2 separate regions of the Homo sapiens genome follow, and region 2 is linked to region 1. Evidence: fine-mapped QTL for protein levels in blood plasma. A gene starts in region 1. The other region holds a variant in brackets. All regions are shown on one strand. Distances are between the middles of the regions.

The links. A credible set is the group of variants that fine-mapping cannot tell apart. PIP is the chance, under the fine-mapping model, that this variant and not a neighbour inherited with it causes the effect. The UK Biobank Pharma Proteomics Project read protein levels with antibody pairs (Olink). The fine-mapping took linkage between variants from a reference panel, not from the people measured, so its PIPs are less certain.
Region 2: its variant is the best candidate, but not a certain one, in a credible set for the plasma level of the SEZ6L protein (UK Biobank, PIP 0.63).

What each region holds. Positions count from the first base shown.
Region 1 is chr22:26,165,884-26,174,212 of GRCh38, forward strand. SEZ6L (seizure related 6 homolog like) reads left to right here and starts at 3,579. Exons shown (of 17, transcript NM_021115.5): 1 at 3,579-3,880. The coding sequence starts at 3,787. It overlaps LOC105372971 (a long non-coding RNA gene), which reads right to left and starts at 3,351. Exons shown (of 6, transcript NR_188586.1): 1 at 3,120-3,351; 2 at 898-1,046. RefSeq lists a silencer at 3,602-3,731 and an enhancer at 4,558-5,497.
Region 2 is chr22:26,289,546-26,297,874 of GRCh38, forward strand. SEZ6L (seizure related 6 homolog like) reads left to right here. Exons shown (of 17, transcript NM_021115.5): 2 at 2,861-3,601; 3 at 4,747-4,880; 4 at 7,343-7,535. Among named protein-coding and RNA genes, the nearest start is that of SEZ6L-AS1, 47 kb to the left of the region's middle. The variant G/A (reference allele first, on the strand shown) is at 5,028.

The sequences.
Region 1 (8,329 bases):
CCAGAGAGACTGGTGACTCACTTAATATCACACAGCATTAGCCTTTAGTCCATCAGTTCATGGGATCTTCTCTATAACCCTAGGAAATAAGTGCCATAATATCCCCTCATCCACGAGGATATTATTATCCATTTATGTCAATCACTCCATGTGATAAGTGTTATTTTTATCCCTACTTCTCAGAAGAGGAAAATAAAGCTCAGAGAGGTTAAGTAACTTGCCCTTGTCATCCTATAAGGAAGAGGCAAGGCTAGGATATAACCCTTTGTCACCACTGTACTAATTTTAACCGCATAAGAGCTGATGCTCTGTTTATCACATGGCAAAATATAAGGTGAATAGAATTGTAGGCACACATCATCTAATCAGCAGAGAAGCTAAAATTATCTCCCCAGGTGGCATTGGGTAGGAGGAAGCTCACCCTGACACCAGAATCTAGGCAGGATGTGCCCTATTAGACAGACCACAACATCACTGCCATGGAAACAGTAAAAGGTAAAAGGTAAACCAAGTGTGTGATATCGAGCAAGTTACTTTGCCTCCCTGGCCCTCAGTTTCCTCATCTGTAAAATGGCTATCAAAATTGTGATTGCAGATTTTCATCTGCAAACTGTTCTAGTCCCTTTCAGAATTCTATTTCTATTATGCTATTTCTTCTTCCAAAAATAGTCTTGATACTGCTCCTAAATAATCACTTTATGTTCCCAACATCACAATCTCAGATAATCAGGTCTGTGTCTCATTTCCTCAAGACTTTTCTCTGTGCCTTGTTTTAGCCAGCAAATGGAATGAGTAAATCACGGTCCATATGTTCAATGGGTTAATGGTTTACAGTGTCACTTCTTCCACATAAGACACCTGCATGCAAGCAATGATCTAGAAGTTCAATGTACTTACCAAAGTGAGTAACCCCATTGATGGACTTTTAGTGATGTGGTCCTTCTGGTAGTGATGAGAGGTTGAAGCTTCAGCAGGTAGCAACCAAATCATAGCACAGAGGCAGCCACCAAATTTCTGGGAAGTAGGCTGTGAAGGTGAAATGGGTTCTGGCTCTGTAGTCAGGGCTGCCCTTGAATCTGCCAAATCCCACCGCTTCCTGACTGAGTGACCTTGGCTGGGTTGGGACCCCCCATAAAAAATCAGATACTTATCTTTCAGATGGCAATAACCACACCTCGTTTTCAGGAAGATTATGAAATTGAAATGAGAGACCATGCTCGGTGTGGGACAGCACCTGGCAAACAGTGGATTCTTTACACAATAGTTTCCTTCTCAGTTGGGTTGTTTGGTTTTTTTCCTGTAAATTTGTTTAAGTTCCTTATAGATGCTGGATATTAGACTTTTGCAGATGCATAGTTTGTAAAATTTTTCTCCCATTCTGTAGGTTGTCTGACATTACTGGGTATATACCCAAAGGAATATAAATTGTTCTATTATAAAGACACATGCCCATGTATGTTCATTGCAGCACTATTCACAAGAGCAAAGACATGGAATCAACCTAAATGCTCATCAATGAATGAGCATATATACGGTACATATACACCATGGAATACTATGCAGTCATAAAAAAGAATGAGATCATGTTCTTTGCAAAAACATGAATGGAGCTGGAGACCATTATCCTTAGCACACTAATGCAGGAACAGAAAACCAAATATCACAAGTTCTCACTTATAGGTGGGAGCTAAATGATGAGAGCACACAGACACATAGAGGGGAACAACACACACAGAGGCCTACCAGAGGGTGGAAGGCAGGAGGAGGGAGAGGATCAGAAAAAAATTACTATTGAGTACCAGGCTTAATACCTGGTTGGTGAAATCATCTGTACAACAAACTCCCATGACACAAGTTTGCACACATAACAAACCTGCACAAGTACCCCTGAACCTAGGAATTAAAAATAGTTTCCTTGCCTCCAAGTATGGAGCTAAACTACCTCTTCGTTTTTCTCTCGCTCGCTTTCTTCCCTTTCCCCTCCTCCTCCATCTTCCTTGCTTCTTTAGGTTTCCATTGAACAAGTCTCACTGAGCACCCGCTGCATGCCTGCATTATACTATACAGAGCCTGAGCGTATAGCCACAAACAGGCAAGGTCATTCCACAGAGAGCTGGCAGCCTCATACAGTAAAGCATGGAGTGCTTCATCTTCTCCAAAGGAGAAATCAGCACTCCTGCATCCCTGCCTCAGCCACCTTCTTTATAAAAGCCAGTTGGGTTTACTGCCAGGAATGGAAACCTCTTGCAGCTGAAGATAGGATTTTATGGGGGGGCTCTCTGTCCCCCAAAGCCTGAGGCAGGTCTGGGCCTATAGTCAGTGGCCTGTAAAAGAGCATTGTTTGAGTGAGTAAATGGGGAAGCTCTGGGTGTGGAGCGTCTTCTGAAACCCTGGGCCAGAGTGCTTCTCCTTCCCTCCTCCATCCAGTGTTCACCTCCCCCACCCATTCTTTCTAGGGACTCCCGGCTCCACCACGCTGCTAAAGACATATTCCTCCCCCTGTTGCTGCCTGCAACCTTCTCTCCATCTGCTCCCTCTGCCTGTTCAGGCTGCAGTGTGTAGATAGTATGGCAAGGTAGGGTAGGGGGAGGAGGACAGCTTCTAAATTGGGTGAGAGGCCTGTAAAGCCTGACCGGTCTGCCAAGGCTACGCAGGGAGAGACAGTCAGTCTCCAGGACTGTGCATAAGCTTGTCCCCACCTAGCTCTCTGCCAATGTCTGTCCCCAAGTATCTGTTTATCTCCCTCATTGATTGTCCCTCACTACCTCTATTTGTGGAGAAAAGACTTTGCTTGAGAATCAGGCCTGGGCAAGAATGCTGCAGAGGTGGGCCTTGTAGTCCTGCTCAGATAGGGAAGCGGGTACAGGAAGAGGCAAGCGGCTGACCTGAGAGGAAGCCTCGCAGCGCTAGTGCCCTGCCGGCAGTGGGGTTATGGGAGACAGGGCTCAGATTAAAAAGTGGAGGTGGATCTTAATTTAGAGTTCGTGATTGGGCTTCAGAGGGGTCCAGACCCCCTCGTGTTAGATGCACGATTTTGTGGCTATGTGTAGTGTTCTAGTAGATTCACAGCTGTCACCAGATCCACAGAGTTACAGACTTTCTAGGTTATGGGGACTCACTTTGGAAGCAGTGAGGCCCTGGCGGGGAAGCAGGCTGGCTGGATCCCAGAGGGCTCTGGAAAGAACTGGAACTGGGATGTATCTGGAAGGCTGGGCAGGCAATGGAAAGCTCCGGGCTGCTCATAAGCTCGGTTTCCAGGGCTCCATCTCACCGTCTGGAAAATGGTCCGGGTGCTCTCCAGCCTGGCCTGGCCAGGCAGAGCTGCTGGGAGCGTCAGCAGGGAGAGAAAACGCTCGGCTCCCAGGACGCAAGGGGAATTGGCGTTAAACTTTGCAGGGCCGACGGGCCGGCGGCCAGAGGAGGCGGCTGGCACCCCCGGCGCCGCCGCGGCCCCTCCAGCTCACTGCCCGCTCGCCCGCCCCCTCCCTCCCTGCACTCGCTCGGCACAGACTCGGCCCCAGCCCCCTCCCTCCTCCCGCTCGCTCCACGCTCGTTCGCTCGCTCGCCGGCTCCTCCTCACTCGCCCGCCCGCGCCCGGCGCAGCTCGGCCAGAGCGACCGCGGGGCTGAGCGCGCGTCCGCCCAGGGGGCTCCGGAAGCTGCCCCGGCCCGCGGCCTCCTCCCTCGCTCCCGCTTCCCCTTTCTCGCTCACCGCCGCCCTCCTTCCCCAGCTCCCTCGCCGTCCGCCCGCCCCACAGCCAGCGGCTCCGCGCCCCCTGCAGCCACGATGCCCGCGGCCCGGCCGCCCGCCGCGGGACTCCGCGGGATCTCGCTGTTCCTCGCTCTGCTCCTGGGGAGCCCGGCGGCAGCGCTGGAGCGAGGTAAGCGCCCCGAGGGGCGGGGCGGGCAGGGGGCAAAGTTGCCGGGAGAGCGGGGCAGCCAGGGGTCGGGGCTGACCAGGGCGACTCAGGCACCACCCGCCGGGATGGGAAGCGGTGGTGGCTGTCCAAAATCGGGGCTAGGAACCGCACGTCCCCTTGGCCCGGGCTGATGGGAGTGTGGAGGCGGGGATGTGTTGAAGGACTCGGGCGCTTCCCTGCTTCGGCTGCGGGCTCCCTTTCGGTCTTCCCCGGCTGCGGGGCTGATTCTCCTTTGCAGCCAAAGAGGTTCTCCTTGGAGTGGGGTCGCCTCCAAACCCCAAATTCCCGGCGCTTCTCTGCAACCGCACCCGGGGCTAGGTGCCAGATAATTATCTTCCTCTCCGGGAGAGGACAGGAAGGGGGGTGAGAAGCTGACCCACCCTGCAACTGAGGACTAGACTCAAACAGTGCATTTGCCGCTCCCCCCGACACCACAGAAACCCTTGACTCCTTTGGTTCAGGCTACCCCGAGGGTCTGTGTTCCTGGATCGATCTCAGCCAAGCGTCAGGATACCGGACTTGGGTGTGGCTTTCGCTAGAGGCCGGTGGAGGGGGCTGAGGGCTCTGAGAACTTGGTAGGGGAGGGAGAAGAGATGTTAGTTAGCAGTTGGGAACCTGAACGGGCTCCCCTCTACTCTCTCCCCTACTGCCTAGCATCTCTGATCACTGTTAGGAATGGGGGGTGAGGGGTGTTAGTTTCATCTACCACGTGTTTGTTGAAGGGGAAGAGGGGCCCAAATTTAGCAGAGAATGACAGCTCCTCTTTCTCAGACCTGGAACCATACCCTCTCTCCACCCCGGTAAGGTACCCCAGGAAAAGTTATGGGTGGGGGAGAGGGCCAGATAGAGAGAGGGGTGCAACGCCTAACTCACCCAAAGCTAACCCTCAGAGCTTCGGGGGTTTTCTCAGGCACCTAGGAGACCCGAAAATCAATGGGAGGGTTAGTTGGCCACAGGACCCGGCCTTCTTGCAAGGTCCCAGAAATGCGCTCCTCACGTGTAAAAAAGCAGACAGCTGCAGGGTCTGCCCAGGCTGAAGACAGAGGGAGCGCAGGCACTATGCTTATCTGGGGCTCCGCCTCTGTCATTTGCACCGTCTTGACTCGGAGTTGGGGGACAGGCGGTGTTCTTCTCCGGGGAGTTCTGGACCCCCAGCGCGCGCACCTGCTTTCAGCACCAAAGGCCCTGGACAGCTCTCAGCTCCATGGGCCCTGGCTCTGGGTCCCTTTCCCTTCAACCCTTCCCGGTGGCCTGGAGTGCCCCCCTCAGCATAAATCAGGCATTTTATCCCCCATCTCCCCGTCTTTTTAAATGTAGAGCCCAGAGTGCAGAGCAAAGGAAATTGTTCATCACCTTTTGTTTAACAAAGCATATCATTGAAGAACCCCCACCCCTTTTTTATGGGGCAATAATGTCCACAATTTACACCAGGTCTGGACAGTTTCTCTGGGAAAGATAGGGAAAGAGATTTGGTTTAAACAAATCGTTTCCACCACAGCATGGCCTTTCTTAATTAGCTGTCTCTTTCTAACAATGGCTTGGTGGCCTTGAACTGAGTCCAGCTCTCCCTCCCCCACCCCCTTTTGAATCTGTGTTGTGACTAACACACATATAAAAAGAACCTGAATCTACCCAGCAGCTTACTGGATTTTCTAAAGCAGTTCTACCTCTGAGAACTCCACTCTCCAATACACCACCTTGCAGGGAAAAAAAAATTGTCTTAATGGCACGTATTGAATTGTCATCTAAGACAAGGATTTCCTATTCTGTTTCCTTCACGGGCTGCAAACACATTGTAAGAGCAGGGGGAGACATGTGTGTGTTTTAATTTTTAAGACATTTCATACTATTTTTCCAACTGCTCAACACCATGGCTAGCCAGCATATTTTTTAAATTGACTTCAGGTCACCACCAAATTAAAGTCAATTGATGTGCTACTTCAGAAAGCTCATTAATAAGTGTGTGGTTCTGACTCTGAGTCATAAGGAGGGAGTGATACTGGCCAATGAGCATTGCCGAGTCTGATGGTGCATTTGGAGACAATTGACCTTCCACAATAAATTCTATTTTTAATGTAGAGCCCAACATCCACTAATGTCAGATGGAGAACCATTCACCTAACTCGTTGTTGCGAACTAGTTCTTCTGCTTGCGGTGAAGTGAGGGGATTTGTAAATACTCAAAAGGGACTTGTTGCTACATTCTGATGCAGGTCACGTGGTTCTCTGGGCCATTTCGCTGTAAGGCATGAATAAGTATAAAGTATAACTTGTTTTTGAAGAGCCTCCTTATTGTCTCAGATATGCACATGGGGAATAATTGTAACTACATGCAAAGACTGCAAAGCCTAAGAATAATTTCTTTTCTTTTTCTCTTGAATTAATAAGGCAAATTCAGTATTGCTCAATAAGGCTCAAATTTGCTGCTTCCCCAGTCTCTAACGTGTGTTGTGGTTAGATTCACTTAAAGACTATTTTCATTATGGATTGGCATTATTTTCCATAGAGTTTTGCCCGTTCCTGCCAGGGGCCACCGTATCTAAGCTTGAGGGATTCATCTTGTGTTCATATGGCTCAGTTAGGTATTAAGAAAATAATGTTACATTCCTTTCCTTCCCCTTCCAGGGCAAAAGGATATTTTCTGATCAGAGTGGCTTGTTTTCTTATTTTTGCTTACAAGTCCATTCCTGCAAGCTGTTCAAATGAGCTCGATTTACTGGCCCTCCTATTCTGTCCAGAGACAATTTATCCAATATACCTACTGTGCAGACCTCCACTAGGGGCGCTCCAAGATCTAGCTGGCGACTAAGGGCAGAAGAGAGGGGAATTCTGACCTGTGAACAACCAGGTGTGTGCAACACCAAAGGTCAGCAGAATGGAGCTCCTCTCAGCCTGGAGGCCTTGCTATCATCTCTCCCCTCCCTCTTTCTGATTACTACATTTTATTACTGTTTCTCAGAGAAAAATTATTGGTCACCCTTGACACACGCAGTGAAAAAGAGAAAGAAAAGGTAAAAAGAAGCCCGGAGAATGCTCCAAGGAAAATGTCAATCCAACTGCCCTTTTTGTATTTTTGCAGTTTTCTTCATGAAGCCAAATTGCAAAACATCCAAGAGGCTGTGGAAAGGCTGTTCTGGGGAGTTTGACTGAACTGGGCACTGGAATTAGATTTATAAAGTCCAGGAAAAGAAGTGCAGCTCCATAATTAGAGTGACCTGGGTCCAGAGGCCAGCTCCATTGTCTATTAACACATGGCCTTCAGCAGAACTATTTTATCTGAACTCCCATTTCACCATCTGAGGAATGGGGGCAGGGCAAGGAGGACTGATGATACCAGCCTGGAAGGATGGCTGCAGGGATTACATAATGCATGTAAAAGCAGCTGGCACGGAGTAGGTGCTCAAGTAATGTTTATTTCTTTCTTTCCCTGCTTTCCAAAGGGCAAACTGCTCCTATTAGTAGACACCAAGAAAACAAATCTCTGCGATTGGCATGAAGCAGATGTTGGTGTAAATATTGGGATAATTCAGGCTAAAGTAGAAAGGGGTTGAAGGGCATAGTGAGTAACTCCAGTTACCTGTATTCTCACCTTTGGCAGATGAGAATTTGACCTTGCCTGGTGCAGACACCCTTCCCTTCCAAACTCTCATGCTGTTTCTTTTTGAACCTAAATATTACCATCAGGAATCAGAGTTCATGGTACTGGAGATCGAGCGGATGCAGGAGAGCAGGTTAATGGTTGGGAAGAAGACATAAGAAGCAAGTCTTCTGGAAAAAGATATTTGCCCTTTCATTCATTCATTTGAATTTACCGAGCACTTCCTATGTGTCTTAGTTCAACCTGCTATAACAAAAATGCCTTAGATAGGGTGGCTTAAACAACAGAAATTTATTTCTCACATTTCTGGAGGCTGGGAAGTCCAAGCTCAGGGCGCCAACAGACTCAGTATCTGGTGAGTGTCTGTCATCTCTCTTTCTGCTTTGCAGACAGCCACTTTCTAGCTGAATTCTCATATGGCCAAGAGGGACAGAGAGCCCGGGTCTCCTCATCTTAGAAATGAACTAATCTTTATCATGGGGGCCCTATCTTTATGATTTCATTTTAACCTAATTAATTCCCAAAGGCTCCACCTCCAAATGTCATTACATTGGTGATAAGGCCATCAACGTATTGATTTAGGGGGGACACAGACATTTGATCTATAGCACTACGCATGCGGTAGACCTTGTTTTGGGTGCTGGAGTACTATAATATGATAAGGCTCCTGCCCCAGTAATGGCAGCCTAGCAAGAGACATCTGCAGGTAAACTACTACCATCCGTGCCATGTGGTAAGTTCTTTGGTGGGGGGATATCAGACATCTATGGGACCTCACGTGGATGTGTTTAATTCTCACCAGGGGTGGTCAGT
Region 2 (8,329 bases), 120 kb after region 1:
CCTGATGCCTGAATGACCTTGACCTGCCCTCATGCCATCCACTCACGCTGCTCCCAGATACCCATTCCTGGCCCAGCATCACTGGCGGCCTGGAAGGAACACTGGCTGGTAATCAATGTTACACAACAGGAACATTTGTTGATGCCAGTTGCAAACTGTTGCAGTCTATATAGATTAAGCCACCGCCGCCAACTCCATGAAAGTAAATGAGCCTCTCCAACGACTGCTGAAATAAATTTAAATGACAGCACTGGAGGGCCTGGAGACTGTAGCTGAGTGAGTGTCTCCCTGCAGAAAATCGACAAGGACAGCTATCAGTCCGAGGGCCTTTGTCCCCGTGATGTAATTCCTCTCTATCTAGACATCTTCACGGGGATGTTCTGATTGCTCCAGTTTCCTGCCGAGGGGCTGTGATTGCAATGACAAGAGTAAAAACCATGACGGCAGCTGGCATTTGCTAAGCACTCACTACGGGTGAGGCGCTGTCCTAAGTGCTTTGCATACATCAACTCGCTGAATGATGGCAACCCCAGGAAATAGGAAATAATAGCCCCATTTGACAGCTGAGGGAACTGAGGCTTGGAGAGTGAAGTCATTAACCAGCAATTGGCAGAACTGGGTCTTTAAAAAGCAAACAAAGCTGGTTTCCAGCACCATTCTGCCAGACAGCTGCCTGGGCCAGCCCTTCTTTAAAATGACTATTGGGCCGGGCGCGGTGGCTCACGCCTGTAATCCCAGCACTTTGGGAGGCCGAGGCGGGTGGATCACGAGGTCAGGAGATCGAGACCATCCTGGCTAACATGGTGAAACCCTGTCTCTACTAAAAAATACAAAAAATTAGCTGGGCATGGTGGCACGCACCTGTGGTCCCAGCTGCTCAGGAGGCTGAGGCAGGAGAATGGCGTGAACCCGGGAGGCGGAGCTTGCAGTGAGCCGAGATCGCGCCACTGCACTCCAGCCTGGGCGACAGAGTGAGACTCCGTCTCAAAAAAATAAATAAAATAAAATAAAATAAAATGACTAAATGGTTTTACCTTCCAGACAAAAATAAATCGCAAGGATGGGGACCAAGGTGGGAGGATCACTTGATCCCAGGAGTTTGCAACCAGCCATAGTGAGATCCGTCTCAAGAAAAAACAAAATGAATTACAAGAAGTTAGCAAGGTATACAAGGCCCTCCAGGGCCTGGCCCCTGCCTCCCTACCTTACCAGCTTTATCCCCCGTACTCTCCACTTGTGCTCCAAAACCCCTTGCAATTCTTTTGTGCCCACCTCTGCCCAGCCTCCAAGCCTCCATGGGTCTTCACACAGTCCTCTGTTCTGAATCTGCCTCGTGACTCTGAATCCTAAAACATTTCTGTGTCTCCCACAAGGTCACTCTTACATTCCTTCAGTTTAAAATGTACCTCCCCCAACCCTGCTTTTACACTGTTGGTGGGAATGTAAATTAATTCAACCATTGTGGAAGATGGTGCTGAGATTCCTCAAAGATCTGGAACCAGAAATAGCATTTGACTCAGCAATCCCATTACTGGGTCCCATTACATATATACCCAAAGGAATATAAATCATTCTGTTACAAAGATACATGCATGCACATGTTCATTGCTGCACTATTCACAATAGCAAAGACGTGGAATCAACCTAATGCCCATCAATGATAGACTGGATAAAGAAAATGTGGTACATGTACACCATGGAATACTATGCAGCCATAAAGACAAACAAAATCATGTCCTTTGCAGGGACATAGATGGAGCTGGAAGACATTATCCCTAGCAAACTAAGGCAGGAACAGAAAACCAAACACCACATGTTCTCACTTATAAGTGGGAGTTGAACAATGAGAACACATGGACACAGGGAGGGGAGTAACACACACTGGGGCCTGTTGCGGGGTGGAGTTGGGGGAGGGGAGAGCATTAGGAAAAATAGGTAATGCATGCTGGGCTTAATACCTAGCGTGGGTTGATAGGTGCAGCAAACCACCATGGCACATGTTTACCTACATAACAAACCTGCACATCCTGCACATAGGCCCCAGAACTTAAAATTAAAATTTAAATTTAAAAAAACTCTCCTCCCCCATCCCCCAAGCCCAGCCAGAGCACACAGCTTAGAAAAGAGAGTGTGGCCTGGTGTCCATCCCCACTCATCCTCTTAGCTGCATGTCTTTGTACAGGGAACAATCTGCCCAACTGTACATGGCATGCCTGTCCTGCAGACGGGGTTAGGGCCCGTCCTCTCTGCTCTCTTAGCACACAAGCTTTTCTCTTTCCAAGCATTCATCATATCAAATATGATTGTGTCTACTTTCCCATCCCCCTTCCCAGTACATATACAACCAGGCAGTGAGGCCCCTGTGCTTTTTGTTTCTATACTCCTAATGCTTAGCTCAGTCCTGGCATGATCAAGCCCAAGTCTTCAGGAAAAGGAAGGAAGGAAGGAAGGAAGGAAGGAAGGAAGGAAGGAAGGAAGGAAGGAAGGAAGGATGGATGGAAGGAAAGAAGGAAGGAAATGAAGGAAGAAAATGAAGGAGGAAGGAAGAAAGAAAAAAATGGAAGGGGAAAGGAAGGAGGGAGGGAGGAAAGAAAGAAAGAAAGGAAGGAAGGAAGGAAGGAGGAAGGAAAGAAGGAAGGAGGGAGGGTGGGAGGAAAAGAAGGAAGAAAAGAGAAAGAGGGAGAGAGGGAAGGAGGAGAAAAAAGAAAGGAAGGGAGGGAGGGAGAAAGGAGAAGTTGGTTTAGAGGCCAGCCGGACGAGCTTTGGGCACCGCCCTTAGGAGGGCCACCCTCAGAGTCTGACAGCAGGTGAAGGTCCTAAATCTCCCCAAACTAACTGGTGTCTTTTCTCCTCTTCCAAGATGCTCTTCCCGAGGGAGATGCTAGCCCTTTGGGTCCTTACCTCCTGCCCTCAGGAGCCCCGGAGAGAGGCAGTCCTGGCAAAGAGCACCCTGAAGAGAGAGTGGTAACAGCGCCCCCCAGTTCCTCACAGTCGGCGGAAGTGCTGGGCGAGCTGGTGCTGGATGGGACCGCACCCTCTGCACATCACGACATCCCAGCCCTGTCACCGCTGCTTCCAGAGGAGGCCCGCCCCAAGCACGCCTTGCCCCCCAAGAAGAAACTGCCTTCGCTCAAGCAGGTGAACTCTGCCAGGAAGCAGCTGAGGCCCAAGGCCACCTCCGCAGCCACTGTCCAAAGGGCAGGGTCCCAGCCAGCGTCCCAGGGCCTAGATCTCCTCTCCTCCTCCACGGAGAAGCCTGGCCCACCGGGGGACCCGGACCCCATCGTGGCCTCCGAGGAGGCATCAGAAGTGCCCCTTTGGCTGGACCGAAAGGAGAGTGCGGTCCCTACAACACCCGCACCCCTGCAAATCTCCCCCTTCACTTCGCAGCCCTATGTGGCCCACACACTCCCCCAGAGGCCAGAACCCGGGGAGCCTGGGCCTGACATGGCCCAGGAGGCCCCCCAGGAGGACACCAGCCCCATGGCCCTGATGGACAAAGGTGAGAATGAGCTGACTGGGTCAGCCTCAGAGGAGAGCCAGGAGACCACTACCTCCACCATTATCACCACCACGGTCATCACCACCGAGCAGGCACCAGGTATGCAGCCCCCAACTCCTGAAGCCATCCTGAAACAGCCATGAGGCACTCACTATGTTCAGGGCATGTGGGTAGAGGAATCTCAAGAAGCCCCGGCCCCACCATCAGTTACCGTCCATTGAGCACTGACTATGAGCTTCGCCCTGTGGCTCAGAATTAATAGCCTCATTTCATTTGTTTGTTGTTTTGGGGGGTTGTTTTAGCAAAGGGGTCTTGATCTTTCGCCCAGGCTGGAGTGCCATGGCACGATCATAGCTCACTGCAGCCTCAAACTCCTGTGCTCAAGTGATCCTCTTGCCTCAGCCTCTTGAGTAGCTGGGACTACAAGCATGCACTATGATGTCCAGCTAATTTTTTTGTTTTTTGTAGAAAGGGGGTCTTGCTTATTGTCCAGGCTGGGGAACTCCTGGGCTCAAGCAATCCTCCCACCTCAGCCTCCCAAAGCACTGGGATTACAGGCATGAGCCAGGACACTCAGCCAACATCCCCATTTTAAAGATGAGACAACTGAAACCCTGAGACCCCCAAGCAACCTGCCAAAGGTCACACAGCTAATGAGCAAGATTCAAAACCTTTTCATCTTGGAACGGAATTCTTCATTTAACCTGCTTCAAAGCCACTAGCCTTTTCAAAGCACATTTGCTTTTAGCATTACATGTATTTTCTAGACTTGATAAAATGCTCTTCTGTGTTCCAGTCTTCTCTACCATCTTTAAAATGGGAGAAGGACCCCCAATTGTCAAGCATACATGGATTTTGGACAAGTGCAATGTGGCCACCCTTCAAAGCACGTGAGCTCTGGGTCCAAATCCTGCTTGCTGTTTGAGCTCGGCCCCTCTCTGAGCTTTTGTTTACTTCCCTCTAAACTGGGGATGAAATATTATCAGTCCCTATGAGAATAAGTGGGGTCACCCCTGTTGACTAGCTAAAATGGTGCCTAGCAGGATATAGTAAGTGATCATTCTGTGTCAATTATTGCTATTTTTATTATCATGTCAATTCTGGAGCTGAGGAATTAACAGCAGAAGGACAGATGGGAACAGCAAAATGCAGGTTCCCCTAAAGCCCCCATTCCACCCCACAGCCCATGGTTGAGCTTACATCCAAGTTGTCTTTGGTGTCCTAATTAAAGTCCTTCCTTCCAGCTCTCTGCAGTGTGAGCTTCTCCAATCCTGAGGGGTACATTGACTCCAGCGACTACCCACTGCTGCCCCTCAACAACTTTCTGGAGTGCACATACAACGTGACAGTCTACACTGGCTATGGGGTGGAGCTCCAGGTAACCCCAGGAGAGTACCTCACAGAGGCTGCCTCGTCTAGCAGGAAGTCTCAGGAGGATTGTCTGAGTCAGGCTTACTGTTATGCTAACTAGTTTGGTTCTGTCTTTGCCCAACCAGGCCAACTTTAGCTGGGTTTTGGCGAATGA[G/A]TAGGAGTTCTTAACTCAATGCTTTGCTAAAATAGCTTGTGGGGATAGAGGGAACATGCTGACAAATTCTGAGGTATTTCCCAGAAGGAAAATCCCTTGATACTCTGCTTATCTCACACACACATACACACACGCATGCACGTGCATAAACACACACACACACACACACACACACACACACACACGGAAGCTCCACCTGATTCATTTGATTCTTTCTTGCTTGCTTGCTTCCTTATTTCTCTTTCTCTTTCTTTCTTGCTTGCTTGCTTGCTTCCTGCTTTCTTGCTTCTTTCTCTTTCTCTTTCTTTCTTTCTTTCTTGCTTGCTTGCTTGCTTCCTGCTTTCTTGCTTCTTTCTCTTTCTCTTTCTTTCTTTCTTTCTTTCTTTCTTGCTTGCTTGCTTGCTTTCCTTCATTTTCTGGTTATTAGGACATTTTATTCTTAAACTTTTGCCCATACAGTAAGAAAGGAAAAGCAGGGTGGCATAATGCTCAAACATCTGGGTTTTAAGTCCTACCTCTTCCAGTTAAAACTGCGTGACTTTGAACAAGGAACTTCACCTCTCTGAGCCTCAGTTTCCCGATCAATAAAATAGGAATAATGTTACTGCTTTGTAAAGTTTGGGGGAGCAGTAAATATGACAATGCAGAGATCATTTGGCCACAGCCCAGCAGAGAGAGAGGGAGGAGAGAGAGAGAAATCATTTGGTCAGAGCCCAGCAGAAATCGCGACCATGCAGTGCATGTTATCCATTATCTTCAGTATGCTAATCACCCTGAATGTGTTCCTTTTTCTCATGGGAAATAAAGAGCCATCAAAAGTTTCTGAGCTGGGGCAGGTGTATGACCTTACCTTAGGAAGGTTTTTTGTTTTTGTTTTTGTTTTACTTGTATAAGAGAGACAAAAGGTAAGCCCCTCAGCAGTAGAACCTGTAGTCTTTGCAGTCCCCAGAGCTTTGCACAAGTGTGTGGCACATTGTAGGTCCTTAATAATTGTTCATGGAATTAAAATAAACTGGAGAAAACCTGCAGTCCAGATTATTATAGTGCTTAAGAACCCTTTCCTCCATGTCATGAAGAGTATTGGACCCAGTATGTGTCCAGTACTGTGTGGAGCCTTTTACCAGGCACAGTAGAGTTCATTCATTGAGCAATTAGAATGCACCAGGCAAAGCTGTTGACACAGGAGAATATGTTGATGTAAAAAACTGATGCAATGCCTGCCCTAAAAGAGAAATACGTAGGATGCCATTTAGTAGGGACTCTAATTGGTGTTTTAGAGGTTGTTGTAGAATCGCAGCAAAGGAACAGGCAAACTCCTTGGCAATCAGGGAAGGTCTCATAGAGGAGGGCAATTTTAATGGGGCTTTGGTGAATGAGTAGGAGTTCATCAAAGAGAAAAGAGGATAAGATATAGGGCCTGAAGGAAGAAGAGCTTGTGGGTAAGGCCTGCCCTGTTTAGAGGAGAGGCAGAGAAACTAAAGTTCCAAGCCCTACTCATAAAAGCGTAAGTCTTCAAATTAGGCATTGAGACCTGACTAAATTCTCCCTTACACACACACGCGCACATACCATTTGTTCAGCCTCCCTGCGTACAACTAAAGTATCTCGCTTCTTTCTTCTCAAATCCCACAGAGTGTAAATGGCAAAGCAAGTGTCTGATTCTTTGAGATAGGGGTTGATTGTCCTGCAGTTGTAGCCACCACTGGGGAGAATAAGAGAATGGGCCAGAGAGTGCCCTAGAAATGAGGCCCCCACCCCTCACTTACCAATTTATGCAGAAAATGGAAGAATATATTCAATCTTTTTTAAATATTTTCTGAGCACTTAATATGTGCCAGGTACTATTCTAGGCACTGGAAACATTGAACAGCATGGAGAAATCCCTAACCTTGCAGAGTATACATTCTGGTAGAATGCTTCTCCCGGCTCCCTGGAGATTGGATCTCAAGCACAAGCTGATCCAACTGCTGCCTCCACTCACCAGCTCCAGGATAATCTATCCCACCCACTAGCATCCAGGGCCTGTGCCAAAGGCCCCTCTTACAGGACACAGCAATGGGGGCCTCACATTGCAAGTCCCTTGCAATGCCTCTGCCTTGCAGTTTGGTTTCACTCTATCCCCTTGGCTTTTGGGGAAATTAGGGGGACCTTGATATTCCCAGGGCTCCTGTGGGCTCGGCATGGGGCCCAGGGGTCCCGTTGACCAGGGGCTAGCAGTACCTGGGCCACTTTTCACTGACTTCTTTGCAACCTTAGAAGGCTCTGTCTCAAACACAACTCAGAGTTCCTCTCTGTCTGCTTCTGCCTGTTCCCAGGTGAAGAGTGTGAACCTGTCCGATGGGGAACTGCTCTCCATCCGCGGGGTGGACGGCCCTACCCTGACCGTCCTGGCCAACCAGACACTCCTGGTGGAGGGGCAGGTAATCCGAAGCCCCACCAACACCATCTCCGTCTACTTCCGGACCTTCCAGGACGACGGCCTTGGGACCTTCCAGCTTCACTACCAGGGTAGGGTCAGGCCAAGGCTGATGAAACATAGGCGTTTGCCTCAGTTTCCCTCTGGAGAAAAGGATTTTAAAACTTTTTGTGCCAGGGACCTCTCTGACAGTTTGGTAAAACCTACAAACCCCTTCTCAGAATAATGTTTTTAAAAGTATAAAATAAAATATATACAATTTTAAAGAAAACGGTATTACTGAGCTGCAGTTATCAAAATACTGTTATAATCTATGATGCCTTAATCTATGTGCTTTTTATTAATTCATTAAACAATGTCTTCTAGTAGTTCTTATAATTGCTGACATTTCAAAGTACTAAGGAGCATAAGAAATAGGTTGAGATATCCATTATGATATGAAAAATATCTGTGGTTTCTCTTGGTGTCAAAGTCACAGGTTCTACTACAATGTTTCAGTTTGTTGCCAGGAAAATAGCACAGCTAAGGTAGAGGTTAATGAAAATAAGCAAGCAGCTTTCCTTCATTCAAGTTCACAGGCCCTGAATTCAATATATAGATCCACTGTGCGTCCACAGACTCCTGATAAAGAGCCTTAACAGGGTACTTCTCTCTTTTCTTCTTCCTCTACTGGTTTTCCTTTTTGTCTGTTCCTGTCTTCTCTGTTTTGCTCTCTGTTCATTCCTCTCTTCTCTTACTTCCTTTCTCCTTCCTTCTCTTCTCCTCCCTCTTTGCTTGCTTGTTTTATTTCTTCATTTCCTCCTCTCTTTCTCTTCCTTTCCACCCTCTATTTTCCCTCCCTTCTCTCTCTCTCTCCTTTCCTAGTCCCCCTTTTCTTCCCCTCTCC